4 linked regions of the Homo sapiens genome follow. The protein of the gene in region 4 purifies or fractionates together with the protein of the main gene of each other region. This does not show direct contact. Each region holds a gene or a part of one and is shown on either strand. Other genes may lie near its edges.

Region 1 (4,374 bases), on a different chromosome or scaffold from region 4:
GGAAGAGAGAAAGCAAAATAGTAAGATATTAAAAACATGTTACCATTTACCTTAGCACCAAAGAAGAGAGAAATACTTAGGTGTAAATCTAACAAAATATCTGTAATATGAGAAGAACTACAAAACTCAAAAGATATCAAATAACTAAATAAATGGAGAAATAGTTCATATTCGTGGATTGGAATAGTCAAGATGTTAGTTCTTCCCAACCTGATCTTTGATTCAATGCAATGCCAATCAAAACCCCAGCACGTTATTTTGTGGACGTCAAAATGTCACCTCCTCAGGGAGGAGATCCCTGGACTGAGTCGGGTCCCTTGCTTTACTCTGGGCAAACTCTGTGCCCATTCATTCTTCAATACACTTACCACTTTGCACACTTGTAGTTTATATGGAGAGGTAAAAGATTCAGAAATTTAAAAATCATTTATAAGAAACAATGCTTTTAATTCCCAGAAGTCCTGACAAGCATTGTGTTGGCTCTCATTGGGTCACTTGCCAGCCTTGAACTAATTACTATGGTTAAGAGATGGACTATGCTGACTGGCAGGAAGTGAGGTTCATCTCACTTAAATCTTACTGTGGTTTCTCAATGGTAGACTGGAGTACCTTGCCAGGGCAGAGAAAAAATGTGAAGAATTGATGTCTTTAACAGCCAAGGAGACTAGTCGGCCAGGGTGCACCAATGGGTCAAGGTGTAGAGGTGGCAATGAGCTGAGTGCCTGCTATGGGCATAGCTCTTTGCTAAATATTCTCGGGAGACTGAGGCAGAGGGTCCCTTCTTTTGCTTTCAAAGGACTTCACTCTAGTGAGGAGGTAAGGTGCCAACCTCTGCAGAGAGGCCAACTTACATAACTTCAGGTCAGGTCTGTAGGGAACACCAGGAGAGGAAATGATCAAGGAAGACTTCCAAGGAAAGGTTAGTGTGTATTTAAAATTTTTAAGCATCTTCTTATTGCGAGGCACTGTGCTAGGCTCTTGGGAACACAGAATTTAAGACATGAGGTCCCTGTCTTCGAGGAACTCTTTTAGCTGTGGTTTATTTAATCATTCAGCAAACATTTATTCAGCCTTTGCTCTGTGCCGGCACGTGCTAGGCACAGAAGACTCCTAGTGAGCCAAAACAGGCACAGTCTGCTCTCATGGAGCTCTCAGTACTGCGGGAGAGGCAGACGTCACTTACATAGCAACCAAAATACATGTCCAAGTGTGCACAATGGTAAGTGTATTGAAGAATGAATGGGCACAGTTTGCCCAGAGTAAAGCAAGAGACCTGACTCAGTCCAGGGGTCTTCTCCCTGAGGAGGTGAGGTTTGAGATGAGATCTGATGGTGCATAGGAGTTAACCCAACAGAGACAGGAAGGTAGAAAGGATAAAGAGATGAGTTGGGATGGAGGGAAACACAGGGTTGGCCGGAGAAACCCACTGCTAGGTGGGAGCTGGGAAGGAAATTAAGAGGCCTCAGGATTCCAAATAAAACATGACAGTTTATGCCTCCTGTCAGTTAGACCCCAGCAAGTGTGTTCTGTGATTCCCATCTCCTGAGGATGGATCAAGGGGTTACCCTTAAGTCTGGTGAGGATCCAAGGTGATCCCTTGGCCAGGGGCCCCTGGCTGACCCTGACTGCTTCCTGGTCTGTCTGCTTCTCCCTAGATCAGCCTGTCCTCGGGGACCCTGCTTCTGCTGCTGGGTGTGGCGGCTCTGACCACTGGCTATGCAGTGCCCCCCAAGCTGGAGGGCATCGGTGAGGGTGAGTTCCTGGTGTTGGATCAGCGGGCAGCCGACTACAACCAGGCCCTGGGCACCTGTCGCCTGGCAGGCACAGCGCTCTGTGTGGCAGCTGGAGTTCTGCTCGCCATCTGCCTCTTCTGGGCCATGATAGGCTGGCTGAGCCAGGACACCAAGGCAGAGCCCTTGGACCCCGAAGCCGACAGCCACGTGGAGGTCTTCGGGGATGAGCCAGAGCAGCAGTTGTCACCCATTTTCCGCAATGCCAGTGGCCAGTCATGGTTCTCGCCACCCGCCAGCCCCTTTGGGCAATCTTCTGTGCAGACTATCCAGCCCAAGAGGGACTCCTGAGCTGCCCACATGGCCTAAGATGTGGGTCCTGGATCCTTCCCCCCTTCTCACCATAACCCCCTCTCAGTGTTTCCCCAACTTCTCCCTTTTAGCAGGGTCCCTTTAGAGCCCAACTCCAGGTCAAATCTGGAGCTCAAATCCCAGTGCTCCCTCCCCAGGAGTGGGGCCCCAACTCTTCCAAGATACCAGCATTCCTCAAGTCCTCCCAAAACTTCCTACCCACACCCTCTTCCCAAGGCCCTCAGGGGCAGAAAACATCTCCTTCAACCCGTCCCCACTCCTTCCTCTGCATGACCTTGGGCAAACCCTTGCCCTTTCAAGCCATCAGCTCCTGCCTCTCTGCCATGAGGGCTTTGGATCAGATTCCTCTTCTCGCCAGGATGAGGACACGCACTGCCCTCCATAGACACAGATGAAGGGGTGGGGGTCATTCAGCTCGAATGGGTCCCAGATGCTCACTTGGCCTTTCCCTGCAGGATGAGTGAAGACGTTTGCCTCTCACAGTGTGTCTTCTACCTGCATTTTGGCATCAGAGCCCCCCAGCCCACCCACCACAGGCAATTACTAGCCCTAGTTGATAGGTGAGGTGGGTGAAGAAGGCTGGAGGTGACATGTCCGAGGTCACACAACAAAGCAGCATGCAGGAACTAGAAACACATCTTCAGCCTCCTCCTGGGCCAGCTCTTGTGCTACAGGTGGGGCGGAGCCAGCCCCTCACCTTCCTGGTTCCCTGAGGGTCCTCAGGGTGGAGGACAGGTTTGGCCCAGAAAGACTAGCCAGAGGCCTGATGGTCCCAGGTGGCTCTGGATATACTTTGGATATGGATTTAAATGGTCTCTAAGAGCCGGGGGTAGGGGGCAGGAAAAGTGGGTTGTCTTTGCCCCTCAAAGTCCACCTACCTAGAAACCAAGCCCACGGTCTTGGCCGTGACCCTGATAATAAATGGGCTCTCTCAGAGGCGCCAGCCCCTCCCTCCCCAGCCGGAGGCGTCATCTCTCTTCTGTACCACTAGAGGGAGCTCTGATGCAGCTGGAGAGCAGCGCTCAAGGCTCTCGCCCCTCCCCTCCCTAACCCTTACCTTCAGTCTCCACCAGCCTGAAGGGCCTCCTAGGGGATCCTCAGGCGGCCCCCACCAGGGCACACCCTACTGTCCTTGTGCCTCACGCCCCCTCCTCATCCTGCACCCCTTCCATCCCACCTTCCCTTTCAATAAACAGCTGGGATGGATACTGACTTTGTTTCCTTTCTCCCTGGCCACTGGGGCGTGGGGAGGAGAAAGACACAGACTCAGGAGCACCTACTGTGTGCTGGGCACGACCCATTATTTCTCATTCGCTCCTCAGGATAACCTGTTGAGAAAGGAATTATTGTCTTCTTTTTTTTTTTTTTAAGATGTTGTCTCGCTCTGTCGCCCAGGCTGGAATGCAGTGGGGCGATCTTGGCTCACTGCAACCTCTGCCTCCTGGGTTCAACCAATTCTCCTGCCTCAGCCTCCCAAGTAGCTGATATTACAGGTGCACGCCACCACGCCTGGCTAATTTTTGTATTTATAGTGGAGACGGGGTTTTACCATGTTGGCCAGGCTGGTCTTGAACTCCTGACCTCAAATGATCCGCCTGCCTCGGCCTCCCAAAGTGCTGGGATTACCGGGTGAGCCACCTTACCCAGACTTATTGTCTTCATTTTACAGATGCGGTAACTGATGATCAGAGAGGTGAGTGATTTATTTTTTATTTTTATTTTTAATTCTTTTTTATTTTTTTCGAGACGGAGTCTGGCTCTGTCACCCAGGCTGGAGTGCAGTGGCACGAGCTCAGCTCACTGCAAGCTCCGCCTCCCGGGTTCATGCCAGTCTCCTGCCTCAGCCTCCCAAGTAGCTGGGACTATGAGTAGCTGGGACTACAGGTGCCTGCCAACACACCCAGCTAATTTTTTGTATTTTTAGTAGAGACAGAGTTTCACCATGTTAGCCAGCATGGTCTCAAATCTCCTGACCTCGTGATCCGCCCGCCTCGGCCTCCCAAAGTGCTGGGATTACAGGCGTGAGCCACCGCGCCCGGCCTATTTTTAATTCTTTTTATTTCAGTAGCCTTTGGGGTCAAAGTGGGTTTTGGTTACATGAATTAGTTCTATAGTGATTCTGAGATTTTAGTACACCTATCACCTGAGCAGTGTATACTGTACCCAATACGCAGTTTTTTATCCCTCATCCCCTCCCAACCTCCCTGGACTCAGTCCCCAAAGTTCGTTATATCACTCTGTATGCCTATGCATCCTCATAGCTTAGCTTCCG
Region 2 (5,248 bases), on a different chromosome or scaffold from region 4:
ATGACTGTGCCACTGCACCCTAGCCTCGGTGACAGAGCAAGACCTTCACTCTTAAAAAAATAAAAATTAAAAAAAATTTTTAAGAGGCTTTGCTTTAAGGTTTAAAATCATATTAGGTTCTAGTTCTTGGGCTAGATGATGTGCTCAAGGATGTTTTCAGTAGTATTATGTTTCATAAGATAAAAAGGTTAACATATTCTTTTGTATATTTCAAATATTTTAAATTGTTGCAAAGTCCAAATTGTATACAAAATTATCGATAGACTGGACATCATGGCGGTTAAGCTGTCATAAGCCTTAGTAATTACATAATAATGGAGGCGGAGATTTTTCTATGTATTTTCCATGGATATATCTCTAGTACCTAAAGTACCTAAAGTAGTAACTGGCACCTAATAAGTATTTAAAAATATTTCTTAAGGGAATGAATAATAATGAATAGTGAATGAATAATCACCGAGTGTAACTGATGGTGACTTGCTCAAGTTAAGAGTGCGTGGATGAATGTATGCAATCATTCATTCAATCAGCTGAGCAAATATTTATTAAGCACCTGGGCCAGGCACCTAAGTGCTTGAGCTACAACCGTGACTAACACAAAGAGCCCTGACCTCATTCAGTTGACATGTTAGTGGGGAAAGGCACTAACAAAAGATAATAACTTCTGTGATATGTTAAATAGTAAGTACCATAAGAAAAACAAAGTAGAGCCGGAACAGGAGATCAGGAGTGTCAGAGGTACACTTCATTTAGAAAGTGTCATTTTAGCCAACTCTTGAGGGGTATGCAGGAGTCAGACATCTGGGCATCAGGGGGACAGGCATTCCGGGCACAGGAAGAGCCACTTCAAAGGCCTTAAGGTGGAAGCTCATCCAGTGTTTCTGAAGCAAGTTAACTAGATGGGGAGGGTCAGAGTAGACATGGGAGATGACAGCTGTGGATAAAATGAGAGACGCAGTGGGAGGGGCAGATTCCAGTACAAGGCCCACTGTAAAGACTTCAGCTTGCACTCTGAGTGAAACGGGGAGCTACTGTGTTCTAGCACAACAGTGACATGATCTGATTTGGTTGAAAAGGACTACTCTGTGTTGCGTGCAAATACACAGTTGGAGAACTGGGCTAGCAAACAAGGAGGCTACTGTAGTCATGCAGGTGAAGGATGAGAGTGGCCTGCAACAGTGTGGCAGCCGTGGAGGGAATGGAGGGTAGCAGTAGTATAATAGTAGAAGTGTGGCTGGGCGCAGTGGCTCATGCCTGTAATCCCAGCACTTTGGGAGGCAGAGGCGGACGGATCACGAGGTCAGAAGTTCGAGACCAGCCTGACCAACATGGTGAAGCCGTCTCTACTAAAAATACAAAAATTAGCTAAGCATGGTGGCACGTGCCTGTAATCCCAGCTACTCGGGAGGCTAAGGCAGGAGAACTGCTTGAACCCAGGAGGCAGAGGTTGCAGTGAGTCAAGACCGCGCCACTGCACTCCAGCCTGGGCGACAGAGTGAGACTCCGTCTCAAAAAAAAAAAAAAAAAAGTAGAAGTACTTTGAAGGTGGAGCCAATGGGATTTCCTGATGACCTGACTATGGGGTATCAAAGAAAGAGGCATCAGGGATGACTGCAAGGTTTTCTGGTGAATGCAACTAAAAGAATGGAGTTACAACTGAGAAGGAGAAGGCTGTGGTAGAGGCAGAGAGATGAGGAGCTCAATTATGGGTATGGTGATTTATTAGATATCCAAGTGGTGATGTTGAGAAGGCAGAGGGATGCAGAGTCTGGAGGTCTGGAGAAAGGTCTAGATGGACATTTGAGAGTTCTCAGCAGACAGGTTACATGACCAAGAGAGCGAGAGCAGACAGAGAAAAAAAGAGGACAAAAGAAGACACACAGCCCAGAAATGTGATATTGGAGTGGACTGGAGACTTAGTATTACTAAAGTAAGATTTCATTATAATCAAAGAGTTGAGAAGCAGAGAAGCATGGAACTAGCAATAAAATAGTCACAGAAATTAGCTCAACACAATTCTGACACTAGGAAAACAATAACTTATGAAGTGAAATTCTGAAAAGCACTTCCTGAACTTAAGGAATTTTGAGGAGTAGCCAAATTCCCTGCATGCACTCAGATAAGTAACAAGTAACAAAAAATACCAAACCCTATTAAATACACTGCATTAGTATAATGCAATTAGTACAATACATTGGGTAATGTCTGGCAATTATCTCTATTAATAAAGATAGGACTTAGCTAACTTTCAGATTGGATAATCAAAACTTAAACATTAAGAATTTTATTGGCCAGGCACAGTGGCTCACACCTGTAATCCCAGCACTTTGGGAGGCTGAGGTGGGAGGACTGCTTGAGTTCAGGAGTTCAAGACCAGCCTGGGCAACACGGAAAGACCCCCCATCTCAACAAAAAAATACAAAAATTAGCTGGAGGTGGTGCATGGTGTGGTGGTGCATACCTGTGGTTCCAGCTACCTGGGGGGGCCGAGGCAGGAGGATTGCTTGAGCCCAGGAGTTCAGGGCTGCAGTGAGCTGTGACTGTGCCACTGCACTCCAGCCTAGGCAACAGAGTGAGACCCTGTCTTAAAAAATATATAATAATAAAAATAAAAGAATTTTATCAACAATATTGTGCTTCGAAATATTTTATGAAACTTTCTAATCCGATAAGCATAACTACTTCCATACCATATACGTGGTAACAAATTTTTAAAAAGCAGGTGATTCAAACACACTCACCTCGTAGGTTAGTAGTGGTAGAGCTGAAAATTTCATCTTAAGTCCCATATTAACTAGCTCTTCTTACCAACAATTAAGACTACATGTCTTAGTTTTAACCAGATTAGTTAAGTAAGAATAGTTAACTAAGAATGGAAAGCATGGCATCTCCTTACCTAAAGCAGCAATCGCAAACATTCTATAGAAATCCCATTCCTTAGCATATCTGATCAAGTCATCAGGGGCAGTATTCTGGTTGGAATCTTGAAGCTGCCACCACCTCAGGTATGCTTCACAAAGCAAACAAAATATGCAGAGTTTTCCATGGATCTGATAGTCAAAGACATTGCCATTCAATTAGGTAAGGAAACCCAGTTGCACTAGTATCAACAGGTACAGAGTATTTGTGGCATCCCACCTAGTCACTTTTCAAATTCAGGACTGCCCAATTAAGTGGCTAATTGTAGTCATTTTGTAATCAGTGAGTTTTAATCAGCAATGTCCATCAGAAGCACATGGGGAGATTTTTTTCAAAATTTAAATGTCTGAGCCCAGGTCCTGATTGAGAATCTTCATAGTACAACATAGACATCATACTTTGAAACAGTTCTGGGGGGATTCTAATGTGCACCCCTAGTTAAGAATCACTGCTTTAAATAATAGTTCACCTTTCATTATACATTTTTGATTTCTGTCCTTTATACAGAATCAAGCAAAAAACTTATGTGATTCATGTATATGTGGGAACAGCAATAAGAGAATAGACTTAATCTGAAGATTCCATGATATTGAATAAGAAACTATTAGTCTGAACATCAGTTTTTTAAAAATATCTCCAGCTGGATGAGTATGACTCAATATGTTAAAAGAGAACAATTAAAACCTAATTCTTAAAAGTCTGAAATTTTGGCTAAAATAAAAAATACTAGGCAACAAAAATTGGCTTTTTTCTATGTATTCCTCCTTCAGGTTGAACTTTCTCCATCAATATAAAGTGAGGAAGAGCTGGGCACAGTAGCTCATGCCTGTAATCCCAATACTTTGGGAGGCTGAGGTGGGAGGATCACTTGAGGTCAGGAATTCCAGACTAGCCTGGTCAACATGGCGAACCTCATCTCTACTAGAAATACAAAAATTAGCTGGGCTTGGTGATGCGTGCCTGTAATCCCAGCTACTTGGGAGGCTGAGGCAGTAGAACACTTGAACCCAGGAGGTAGAGGCTGCAGTGAGCCGAGATCACGCCACTGCACTTCAGCCTGGGTGACAGAGCAAGACTCCGTCTCAAAAATAAATAAATAAATAAAATAACAGGACCGCCAGTTAAATTTGAGTTTCACACACACCATGAATCCATTTTTATTGTATAAGTATGTTCCATGCAATATTTGGGACATTCTTATACTAAAAAATTAATTCATGGTATATATGAAATTCAAATTTAATTGACTGTCCTGTATGTTATCTGTCAACTCTACCCAAACTATTAAAGAGCTCACAATTCAATAAACTAAAAGTTTATTTTGAAAAATTCAACTTTATAAATCAGGACTTTGATTAAACTGAATGTTATTTACCTTATACATTCCTTTAATAGCAAAGTATAAAATGCAATAAATTATGTTTTAAAAAAACATTTTTCTTTTAATGTTTGCTTAACTCATTTAGGTATAATTCTCTCCCTACCTGGATATGTCTAATTGTATTCTGTTAAAAACCAGTGATGATTGTTTCAATTTACTAGCAGGTAATTCAGATCATGGCTTGTCAGTTTCCTGCCAGTGACCATATTCTTAAACACTCACTAAGCATTGTGCACCTTTCAAAATCAACATCTATTATTTCTAGAAACTTCCAGATATGTTGCAATAAAAGACCCACTCTCACATTAGAATTTCTTTTCCTCTTTTATAATATTCTTTACTTCTGTTTAAAATTCTTATTATTCTTTTAAAATGTAACAGCATCAAATAAAATTAAAAAATGAAATTATCACAACTTACATTTATTTGAGTATTGAAAAGAATATGTCTGTAGGCCTGAGCTTTGCACAATATAGCATTAATCAAGATGATAACAGGATCATACTCGATATATTTGTCTACAGGTTTCTGGCAGGATTTCTGAAATAATACAAGATAATATTAGAACAAGCAAATGTATACTTTCTGAAATCCTCAAGGATTTCAAAACAGCAGAGTCTATTTTGGACACAGATAGCAATATGGCCATATTAGCAATTATTTATATAAACTTCCATTCAGATACAAAATGTTCATCTATATAAGAAAGGGTTTCAGAAAGGACTAAATATAATCTTCTAGGCTAGGAATATTAATATTTTAACGTCATATTCAAGAAGCTAAAAATATATCTAATTTAAAGACTGAGTTTAGGCAGGAAAGTATTCCAGAAGATTTTACTTTCAATCTACAGAGACTCTATGTCCAATTCCACTTTCAATTTGTAGCAATTATTACAAAATAAATATATTTATAATGCACTTTCATTGATAAATTGTTGCCTCTTGG
Region 3 (5,248 bases), on a different chromosome or scaffold from region 4:
AGCCTAGGCAACAATACTAAGTCTGTCTCTTAAAAAACAAAAGAACTCTTCACTTTTCTTCTCTTCCATGGATAAGTCACACGCTCATCCACTATTATCTTCTTTTAGTACTAGAGACACTTCAAGTTTAATTTCACTGTGGGTCATACCACTAAATATTAAACAAAATAAATCGTAGGGCCAATCAGAAGGACCAAGAAACAGTGAAATAAATTTCAATGCTACTTCATTAAAAGCTTTTTCCAAATCTTCTTTGAGTTAATTATATTCCATTAGATCACATCATTTCATTAGAACCCCAACTTACATCTTAAAGTATTACACTGGAAAACCCATCCTTGTGACTTAAAAAAATTTTTTTTGTAGAGATGGAGTCTCACTATGTTGTCCAGTCTGGTCTTGAACTCCTGGCCTCAAGTGATCCTACTGCATTGGCCTCCTAAAGTGCTAGGATGACAGGCACGAGCCACCGCTCCTGGCATCCTTTGATCTTAAAGATATTCACCAACGAACGCCTACCTTGTGCTCACATGTAAGCCCTGGCAACTTATCTCTGATTAAAGTTGATATTTCTAAATTACATGTTTAGCTTTTCAAAAAATACATAAAATTAACTGTAATCTTACAATACAAAATTTCTCTGAAAATATCCAACTATGTACTAACTATTACAAATATTTATTCCTGATTCACTTTTTCCTTTCACTGTATTCAGGAAAGAAAGTTAATAAAAATGTAATTTAAAAAGAATGATTAAGCTGGGGACAGTGGTGTGTGCCTGTAGTCCCAGCTGGTCAGGTGCCTGAGGTGGGAGGATTGTTTGAGCCCAGTTCAAGGCTGCAGTGTGCTATAATCATGCCATTGCACACCAGCACAGGCAACATAGCAAGACCCCATCTCTTTAAAAAAAAAAAAAAAAGATTAAATTATTAACTTCTAAACTTGGCAATATGGAGAGGTATAGAATGCAGCAATATTTTAGCAGCATGGGCTGCGGATTCACCACTCAATGTGTTAACAGTACTGTAAATTTAATCAGTCAAATCAGGTGGTGTGCATTGTTTTTGAAAGCTTCTACATCTTATGTAAGTGTGTACAATAAGAAATCTGTTAGATTTGACTTGTTACAAAATAACTGTATCAGATCCATGGAAGCACAGGGCCTGAAGAGAGGAATTCTTTGTTTTCTTCTTTCACTGCCACACCTATTCCAGAAGATTCTCTGGAGACTTTAAAAAAAAAATCATTTTTCAGTTTTCCCACAGTAATTTGCCCAGAGCCAGTATCTACTGAGATAATAATTAAAACAGTGTGTCTGGTTTAAGGAGGCATCCAGATAAGGGCTTCCCATGCAGAGAAAGCACCCACAGGAGGGTCAATCTACAGAACTAAGCAAAGCCTGTTATCTGATAAAGATCAAAATTGACTATCTTTAAAACGTTTTTTAGCCATAAAAAAGGATTAGTTCATGTCCTTTGCAGGGACATGGATGAAGCTGGAAACCATCATTCTCAGCAAACTATTACAAGGACAGAAAACCAAACACCGCATGTTCTCACTCATAGGTGGGAACTGAACAATGAGAACACTTGGACACAGGGTGGGGAACATCACACACCTACACCAGGGCCTGTCAGCGGGTGGCGGGCTGGGGGAGGGATAGCATTAGGAGAAATAACTAATGTAAATGATGAGTTGATGGGTGCAGCAAACCAACATGGCACATGTATACCTATGCAACAAACCTGCACGCTGTGGACATGTACCCTAGAACTTACAGTATAATTTAAAAAAAAAAAGTTTTTTGTTGTTGTTTACTGTTACATGCAGATACAACTGAGTATTCACAATATTTTTTGGAGGAGACATTCATTCAACAAATGTGTAATGAACACCTCAAATGTTTTAATTAATAAGTTAGCCATCACACACATTTTATTTTGAGACAGGGTCTCATTCTGTCACCCAGGATGGAGAGTAGTTACTGCGATCTAGGCTCACTGCAACCTCTGCCTCCCCGGCTCAAGTGATCCTCCCACTTCAGCCTCCCCTGTAGCTGGGACTACAGGCATGCACCACCACACCATGCCCCGCTAATATATATATGTATGTATGTGTGTGTGTATATATATTTTTATATGTTTTATATATATTTATATATTATATATCTATATATAAATATATATTATATAAATATATATATAATATAATATATAAATATATATATAATATAATATATATTTTTTTTTGGTAGAGAGGGGGTTTCGTCATGTTGCTCAGGCTGGTCTCGAACTCCTGGGCAATCCACCTGCCTTGGCCTCCCAAAATGCTGGGATTACAGGCGTGAGCCACTGCCCTTATAAAGACATCACCCTCTTCCCTCCAGGAGAACATCTTGCTGTAGAGAGAAAAATAAGAGAAAAGGACAATCCTACCAATGTGTACTGAGTACTATTTAATAAGTACATACAAGAAGGATCCAGAAACTTTTGCAGGTGCACCGTGAGAAAAACAGATCCCCCTGGCTAGGAAGTAAAGAAAGCTTGGCTGGGCATGGTAGCTCACGCCTGTAATCCCAGCACTTTGGGAGGCCAAGGCAGGCAGATCATGAGGTCAGGAGATCGAGACAATCCCGGCCAACACGGTGAAACCCCGTCTCTACTAAAATACAAAAAATTAGCCCGACATGGTGGCGGGTGCCTGTAGTCCCAGCTATTTGGGAGGCTGGGGCAGAGGAATCGCTTGAACCTGGGAGGCGGAGGTTGCAGTGAGCCGAGATCGCACCACTGCACTCCAGCCTGGTGACAGAGCAAGACTCTGTCTCAAAAAAGAAAAAAAAAAAAAAAGGCCGGGCGCGGTGGCTCACGCCTGTAATCCCAGCACTTTGGGAGGCCGAGGCGGGTGGATCATGAGGTCAGGAGATCGAGACCATCCTGGCTAACAAGGTGAAACCCCGTCTCTACTAAAAATACAAAAAATTAGCCGGGCGCGGTGGCGGGCGCCTGTAGTCCCAGCTACTCGGGAGGCTGAGGCAGGAGAATGGCGTGAACCCGGGAAGCGGAGCTTGCAGTGAGCCGAGATTGCGCCACTGCGGTCCGCAGTCCGGCCTGGGCGACAGAGCGAGACTCCGTCTCAAAAAAAAAAAAAAAGGAAAGTTTTACCACGAAAACATGTGAGCTAACCATTAAATTATCTGGACTTGGCAAAATGTTGTTAATGGTTGAAGCTGGGTGATGAATAAATGGGAGGTTTTCGTACTACTTCACTACTTTTGTATGTATGAAAATTTCCTTAATAAAATTTTTAGAAAGTGACTTGGGAGGACAGCAACATTTCAGGGAGAAGGAATAGCATATGCAAAGGCAGAGGCACAAAACTTCCTTAGTTTAAGGAAGGAAACTAACAAATATAAACAAGCTATGCTTACTTGAAGTCAGAGGTGAGGGCTAGAAAGGAATAGAGCTTAAGGAAACCTGTTTTTACTTCTCTCCCAGATACAGAACTTCAAACTGTTTATGGTTGAGACACTCATGAAAAATTAGCCATATATTAAGTCTAAGAGATAAAATTATTACAAATGCTCAAAATGTAGTCTTGTAGTGCACACCATTAATCACAAAGTATATCTACTACAGCACACTTTTAAGTCCATTTTCAATTATTCAATAAACATTTGAGTTTATACCTCATAAGAAACTTGTTTAAAATCAACTGGCTTCAAATTCTTCAATAAATGATAGAGAAAACCATTTCAGGAATGCCAGAATTTAAACATGAGCTCATTCTGAAATTTCCTGTTACTTAACCAGGTATGCTTCTTTTCTAGCTAAAATACGAAAGGCTCACACTTCAGGGCTGGTACCTCCGGTGCATATAATAACTGGTTCTGGCTTTCTCTATGTCCCACAGCACTATTTTGTACCATACAATGAATATTTTAGTATATGGTGTTACGATACTTTAACACTAGACCAGTAGAAGCCGTGGCTAGAAAGCAATGAGACTGTATCAGATACAGTCACTGATAGCGAGGGAGAGGGGCTCCCCCAAGTTCCAAATGACACAGGGGGAATCATCATCTCAGAAGTCTGTCCCACGTAATGTAAAAAGAAACATAAATATTCTCCCATGCAGACTGAATTATTGCCTCACCAGGAATCAAGCAAGAGAGTACCTTGACAAGGTAGGTAGGGAGGGAAGTGACATTTAATACTCACTCATCCCCATATTGTTTCTCTGTCTTAGTAAAGCAGCTTCTGAGAATAAAATGCACTACTTGGACAAGCCTTCTTTGCTTCGAAGTATTATACTACAGTTTGGCTTAGGTGGTCTTGCATCATAAGTGTTACATGTCTCCCCAAGTTGGTAGAGACTGTCTTTACACTGCTATGGTATTCAAGCTACTCTTTTGAAAGTCATCAACAAAACTATAATAAACAAAACCAATGGCCTTTTTCCAGTACTTATTCTGATTAGAATCTGATATTACTGATCACCTTCTCCTCCTCCTCATCACTGTACCATATGTTTTTCATATCTGTGCTCCAAGTTTGTGATACCATAAATATCTTAAGGGCAGATGCTGTGTTAGACAAGAAACATTTGAGAGTCTAGCACTTAGCAGGTAATAGGAAAACAAGGCAAATGACACATGGCCCCTGTGATTTATTCCTTTTGTTTGTCCACCAAAGCCTTTTACACTGCAGGTGGTCAGTAAATCTCTTAATCAATTTAAGACAGGTCAAACGATTTAAGAAGTTTACAATAAAATGTTTTACACTAATCTGAGAAGTCTATGCAAAGTAAGAACAGCTATGGCATCTTTTTAAAATTGTGAAACTAAAGCATGGTCTTCAGAGGTATGTGAACCCTTCTCACAACAAGGGCTTAAAGTAGGGAACAGATGTAAACTCCTCACTCCCTATTTTGTAAGAATAAGCGCCCGTAATGAAGTTTTTCTCTCTGCATTTTGAGTTTCCTGTTTGTAGTTCCCACTTTATCCTGCTATTCTATTCATTTTCTAGCTGAGCCCACAGCATCAAAAAATCTGCCTGAGAAAAACTGAAAAGAAATACAGCCAATTACATTCGGATGGTTGAAATAGAAATGGTGGTATTCTCTTCTTGAGGAGTTAGGAATCCTTTGTTCTGTGAGTGGAGGGAAGGATCTGAGAAGAAACAGGAAGACTAAGACTGCAGGAGAGAGCCAGGTCGATGGATTCTCTTAGTTAAATAGGAAAGAAAGTCAT
Region 4 (5,248 bases):
AACCTCCTGTTAGGTCATAATGCCTGTCAGTGGGTAATTAACAGAGATCCCTTTGAATCTGGACTTCATAATTTTCTAGAATCCTTTTACTAACACAAGCTAAAAGATACAAGCCCAGCCGGGCATGGTGGCTCACGCCTGTAATCCCAGCACTTTGGGAGGCAGAAGCAGGTGGATTATCTGAGGTCAGGAGTTCGTGACCAGCCTGGCCAACATGGTGAAACCCCGTCTCTACTAAAAATACAAAAAAAAAAATTAGCCAGGCATGGTAGCGGGCACCTGTAGTCCCAGCTACTTGGGAGGCTAAGGCTGGAGAATCGCTTGAACCCAGGAGGCGAAGGTTGCAGTGAGCCGAGATTGTGCCACTGCACTCCAGCCTGGGCGACAAGAGCAAAACTCTGTCTCAAAAAAAAAAAAAAAAAAAAAAAAAAGATACAAGCCCAGGTAAAGAGAGAACCTGAGGTGCACTCAGGGATGACCTATCAAGGTTATTCAAGAAGCAGTTTTCCATCCGCTAACATTGAATTTTCTGCTATATAAACAATGACCTAAAAGTTTAGAGGAGAACTTAATTGAAGTAGCAGATTTATACAGAAGAAGGGAGAAGTAAGCACTGGAGATAATTCTAAATAACTTAACCATTTATAAAAGTTATAGTATTTACAGAAGAATTTTCCCAAAATACAATGCTTCAAAGGCTCTACAGGAAAGAAGAGATGCAGGACAAAATGGTTGCATCCTGGACTCAAGTAGCAGAAGAAAAAGTCCAGAAACATATCCCTGAATAGAAGAGAAAACAGAGTGAGGGGAGCTAAGGAGGGTGCCCTATAGAAAAAGATGCAGAGAAGACATACAGCAGGATAAGGACATCAAAGGCTCCTGACTTCCAGTTCTCCTCTAAGTTGAAGACAGCATGCAAACATACACTTCTGATGTCGCCACAGAAAAAAGATCATGACTGGCAGAACCATCAGAGCCACATATAACACAACATGTGGACTTGGTCAGAGATGGGTCACTGAGACTACATCCTCTTGCTCCCCTTGTGATAGGAATATAGTTATTCTTGTGGTCACTTAATAGACATGGATGGAAAATCTAAGGAAATAGGATATAAAACAAGAGAGATGAAAATGCTTGGATGGCTAACTCAGTCTTCCACTATAAATCTTTCTCATTCTGTCTACAATTTGGAAGTAGCCAAGGTACAGGTGGGAAAGAATAAGGAGAGAAATAAGTGGCCCTCAACATCAGAGGTAGGGCATCTGGAAGTCTCAAAATGACCAAACAAACCAGATATATTTCAGAAGGACAAGAAACTGGATCCCTGAAGCTTAGGACATACCTGGAAAATAACTTCACCACAACACTAAAATATACACACACACAGCACAATGTACAACAAAATGTTTCCTAGTCATAGACTTCACTGGCTTTCCCAGCAAGACTTCATAAATTAGACATACCAAAAAAATTAAATACTTAAGAGATTCACATTTCCAAACGATCCACGCAGAGTTCCTAGAGGGGATTAATGCAGGGACTGAAAAGGTAGGTAAGATGCCCCAGCCAAATAGATCATGCTGCCGTCAAAGACTCCAACATGCCTTCCCAAGCCTTTGCAACCATCAGGGAGGTGGTAAATGAGGACGAAGAAGTCTTCTCTCCATAGAACTGATTTTACAGTGACAGGAGAGTAGAGAGGGTATCCACTCTGTTCACTTCTTCTGCAACTGAAGATTCCATCAGATTAGATCTATGGAAAAAGAGTTATCGTGACTTTATTGTTTTTCATGGTAGAGATGTTCAAAGAAAAGCAGGAAAACTAAAGGTCAGAATATTTCTCTATTTTCCCGTCCTTTTCTTTAGCTCCAATAGTCTGTAAACATTTCCTCCTTCCAGAAAGGCCCAGAAACTTTGTTATTTTCCATGATAAGCTTTTGAACTTTGCACTAGACTATAATATTTCTTGGGAGTGGGGATGGGGAGGGAACATTAGCATTTTGAGCAAGATGATTCTTTGTAGTATGTAACTGCTACAAGCCCTGCATGATGTTAGCATCACTAGCCCCAACCCAGAAAATACCAGTCGTAGCCACCCCTGTCAGTCATTGGGACAATAAAAACCACGACCCCACATTGTCAAATGTCCCCTAAGGAAGATGCTATTATTTCCAGCTGAAAACAATTGAGAATCATTTCTTCATGGTCAGAAGGCATCCATAGGAAACAGTGTTGGTCCAAAACAACTGTCTTGATACACATCTACTCAAGAAAGTTCCCCATTCTGCCTACTTTCTAAAGACAAAGCTGGAATTGGTAGTATTTGTCCTAAACCCTCAAGAGGAACAATATTTCTGCAGCCACTCACCTCGTAGGGAGCTTCAACAAACTTTATCCTAGAGAGAAATCTTCGCAGCTCCCCACGGCCAATTTTGGGGGTGGACTCCTGTAGCTGAGCCATCTGGCCCTCCATTAGTGCCCACCGTAGACTAAGCTTGCTGACCACCAGGGCTGCTGGATGGCCTTCGGAGCTTGGCCCTGTTGTCCTGGTAACATAAAAGGCATCTTTCCAGAGGTCGTTAATTCCAACTGAGGAAGGACAAAAACAAGAGCAGTTAACATGGACACATACCGTCCACTAACAGGAGAGGGGTTTGGTTCAACAATACATTTATTTACTCATAAGTTCATACAGGAAATGTACTGAGCACTGAATAAACAGAAGGCAGTGAGCTAGCCCACGGGTGCAAAGAGGGGAAGGACTGGACGCCAGTAAAGCAGCACATTCTTCCTGGTCTTTGCACCTTTACTCCTCTGAAGCTATTTCCAAAAAAGCCCAACTCAGGAACTGAGAGAATGTGCCCCTTGTGGCAAGAATTCAGTAGAAAAGCAAGCCCGAAACACTAGGGAGCCTGAGAATTCCCAGACTGTCAGTGCGCAGTCACAGAGGCGATTTACCTTGCCAGTGTTTATTTTGCCTTATCTTTAAAATACAAGTTGTATAAGGTGTAAGGAAGGGATCCAGTTTCAGCTTTCTACATATGGCTAGCCAGTTTTCCCAGCACCATTTATTAAATAGGGAATCCTTTCTCCATTGCTTGTTTTTCTCAGGTTTGTCAAAGATCAGATAGTTGTAGGTATGCAGCGTTATTTCTGAGGGCTCTGTTCTGTTCCATTGATCTATATCTCTGTTTTGGTACCAATACCATGCTGTTTTGGTTACTGTAGCCTTGTAGTATAGTTTGAAGTCAGGTAGCGTGATGCCTCCAGCTTTGTTCTTTTGGCTTAGGATTGACTTGGTGATACGGGCTCTTTTTTGGTTCCATATGAACTTTAAAGTAGTTTTTTCCAATTCTGTGAAGAAAGTCATTGGTAGCTTGATGGGGATGGCATTGAATCTGTAAATTACCTTGGGCAGTATGGCCATTTTCACGATATTGATTCTTCCTACCCATGAGCATGGAATGTTCTTCCATTTGTTTGTATCCTCTTTTATTTCCTTGAGCAGTGGTTTGTAGTTCTCCTTGAAGAGGTCCTTCATGTCCCTTGTAAGTTGGATTCCTAGGTCTTTTATTCTCTTTGAAGCAATTGTGAATGGGAGTTCACTCATGATATGGCTCTCTGTTTGTCTGTTATTGGTGTATAAGAATGCCTGTGATTTTTGTACATTGATTTTGTATCCTGAGACTTTGCTGAAGTTGCTTATCAGCTTAAGGAGATTTTGGGCTGAGACAATGGGGTTTTCTAGATATGCAATCATGTCATCTGCAAACATGGACAATTTGACTTCCTCTTTTCCTAATTGAATACCCTTTATTTCCTTCTCTTGCCTAACTGCCCTAGCCAGAACTTCCAACACTATGTTGAATAGGAGTGGTGAGAGAGGGCATCCCTGTCTTATGCCAGTTTTCAAAGGGAATGCTTCCAGTTTTTGCCCATTCAGTAGGATATTGGCTGTGGACTTAAACGTTAGACCTAAAACCATAAAAACCCTAGAAAGAAACCTAGGCATTACCATTCAGGACATAGGCATGGGCAAGGACTTCATGTCTAAAACACCAAAAGCAATGGCAACAAAAGACAAAATTGACAAACGGGATCTAATTAAACTAAAGAGCTTCTGCACAGCAAAAGAAACTACCATCAGAGTGAACAGGCAACCTACAAAATGGGAGAAAATTTTCGCAACCTACTCATCTGACAAAGGGCTAATATCCAGAATCTACAGTGAACTCCAACAAATTTACAAGAAAAAAACAAACAACCCCATCAACAAGTGGGCGAAGGACATGAACAGACACTTCTCAAAAGAAGACATTTATGCAGCCAAAAAACACATGAAAAAATGCTCACCATCACTGGCCATCAGAGAAATGCAAATCAAAACCACAATGAGATACCATCTCACACCAGTTAGAATGGCAATCATTAAAAAGTCAGGAAACAACAGGTGCTGGAGAGGATGTGGAGAAATAGGAATACTTTTACACTGTTGGGACTGTAAACTAGTTCAACCATTGTGGAAGTCAGTGTGGCGATTCCTCAGGGATCTAGAACTAGAAATACCATTTGACCCAGCCATCCCATTACTGGGTATATACCCAAAAGACTATAAATCATGCTGCCATAAAGACACATGCACACGTATATTTATTGCGGCACTATTCACAATAGCAAAGACTTGGAACCAACCCAAATGTCCAACAATGATAGACTGGATTAAGAAAATGTGGCACATATACACCATGGAATACTATGCAGCCATAAAAAATGATGAGTTCATGTCCTTTGTAGGGACATGGATGAAATTAGAAATCATCATTCTCAGTAAACTATCGCAAGGACAAAAAACCAAACACCGCATGTTCTCACTCATAGGTGGGAATAGAACAATGAGAACACATGGACACAAGAAGGGGAACATCACACTCTGGGGACTGTTGTGGGGTGGGGGGGAGGGGGGAGGGATAGCATTAGGAGATATACCTAATGCTAGATGACGAGTTAATGGGTGCAGCACACCAGCATGGCACATGTATACATATGTAACTAACCTGCACATTGTGCACATGTACCCTAAACCTTAAAGTATAATAATAATAAAATTTAAAAAATGAATAAATAAAATAAAATACAAGTTGTAATAAAAATGGTGTCAAGATTCTTAATTACCATTATTTGATGTTCACTGAATATTTTATGCTACTGTTGAAAAAACAGCTCACTCAGATCTAATCACAGGATT

Evidence for each region. The genes of interacting proteins can lie anywhere in the genome.
Region 1: the proteins of FAM234B (region 4) and NRSN2 purify together in Homo sapiens (affinity purification with mass spectrometry; 2 studies listed by BioGRID and IntAct, with this or other methods). This does not show direct contact.
Region 2: the proteins of FAM234B (region 4) and ARV1 purify together in Homo sapiens (affinity purification with mass spectrometry; 2 studies listed by BioGRID and IntAct, with this or other methods). This does not show direct contact.
Region 3: the proteins of FAM234B (region 4) and LAPTM4A purify together in Homo sapiens (affinity purification with mass spectrometry; 2 studies listed by BioGRID and IntAct, with this or other methods). This does not show direct contact.

Annotation. Positions count from the first base shown.
Region 1 is NC_000020.11:351,555-355,928, forward strand, and holds the end of NRSN2 (neurensin-2), read left to right. Parts: intron 1-1,655; coding exon 1,656-2,081; 3' UTR 2,082-3,308; downstream 3,309-4,374. UniProt on the Homo sapiens protein: May play a role in maintenance and/or transport of vesicles.
Region 2 is NC_000001.11:230,987,912-230,993,159, reverse strand, and holds part of ARV1 (protein ARV1), read right to left. Parts: intron 4,841-5,248; coding exon 4,721-4,840; intron 3,051-4,720; coding exon 2,897-3,050; intron 2,585-2,896; coding exon of another isoform or gene 2,462-2,584; intron 1-2,461. UniProt on the Homo sapiens protein: Plays a role as a mediator in the endoplasmic reticulum (ER) cholesterol and bile acid homeostasis. Participates in sterol transport out of the ER and distribution into plasma membranes.
Region 3 is NC_000002.12:20,044,563-20,049,810, forward strand, and holds part of LAPTM4A (lysosomal-associated transmembrane protein 4A), read right to left. Parts: intron 1-5,248. UniProt on the Homo sapiens protein: May function in the transport of nucleosides and/or nucleoside derivatives between the cytosol and the lumen of an intracellular membrane-bound compartment.
Region 4 is NC_000012.12:13,077,133-13,082,380, reverse strand, and holds part of FAM234B (protein FAM234B), read right to left. Parts: intron 2,593-5,248; coding exon 2,372-2,592; intron 1,757-2,371; coding exon 1,751-1,756; 3' UTR 1-1,750.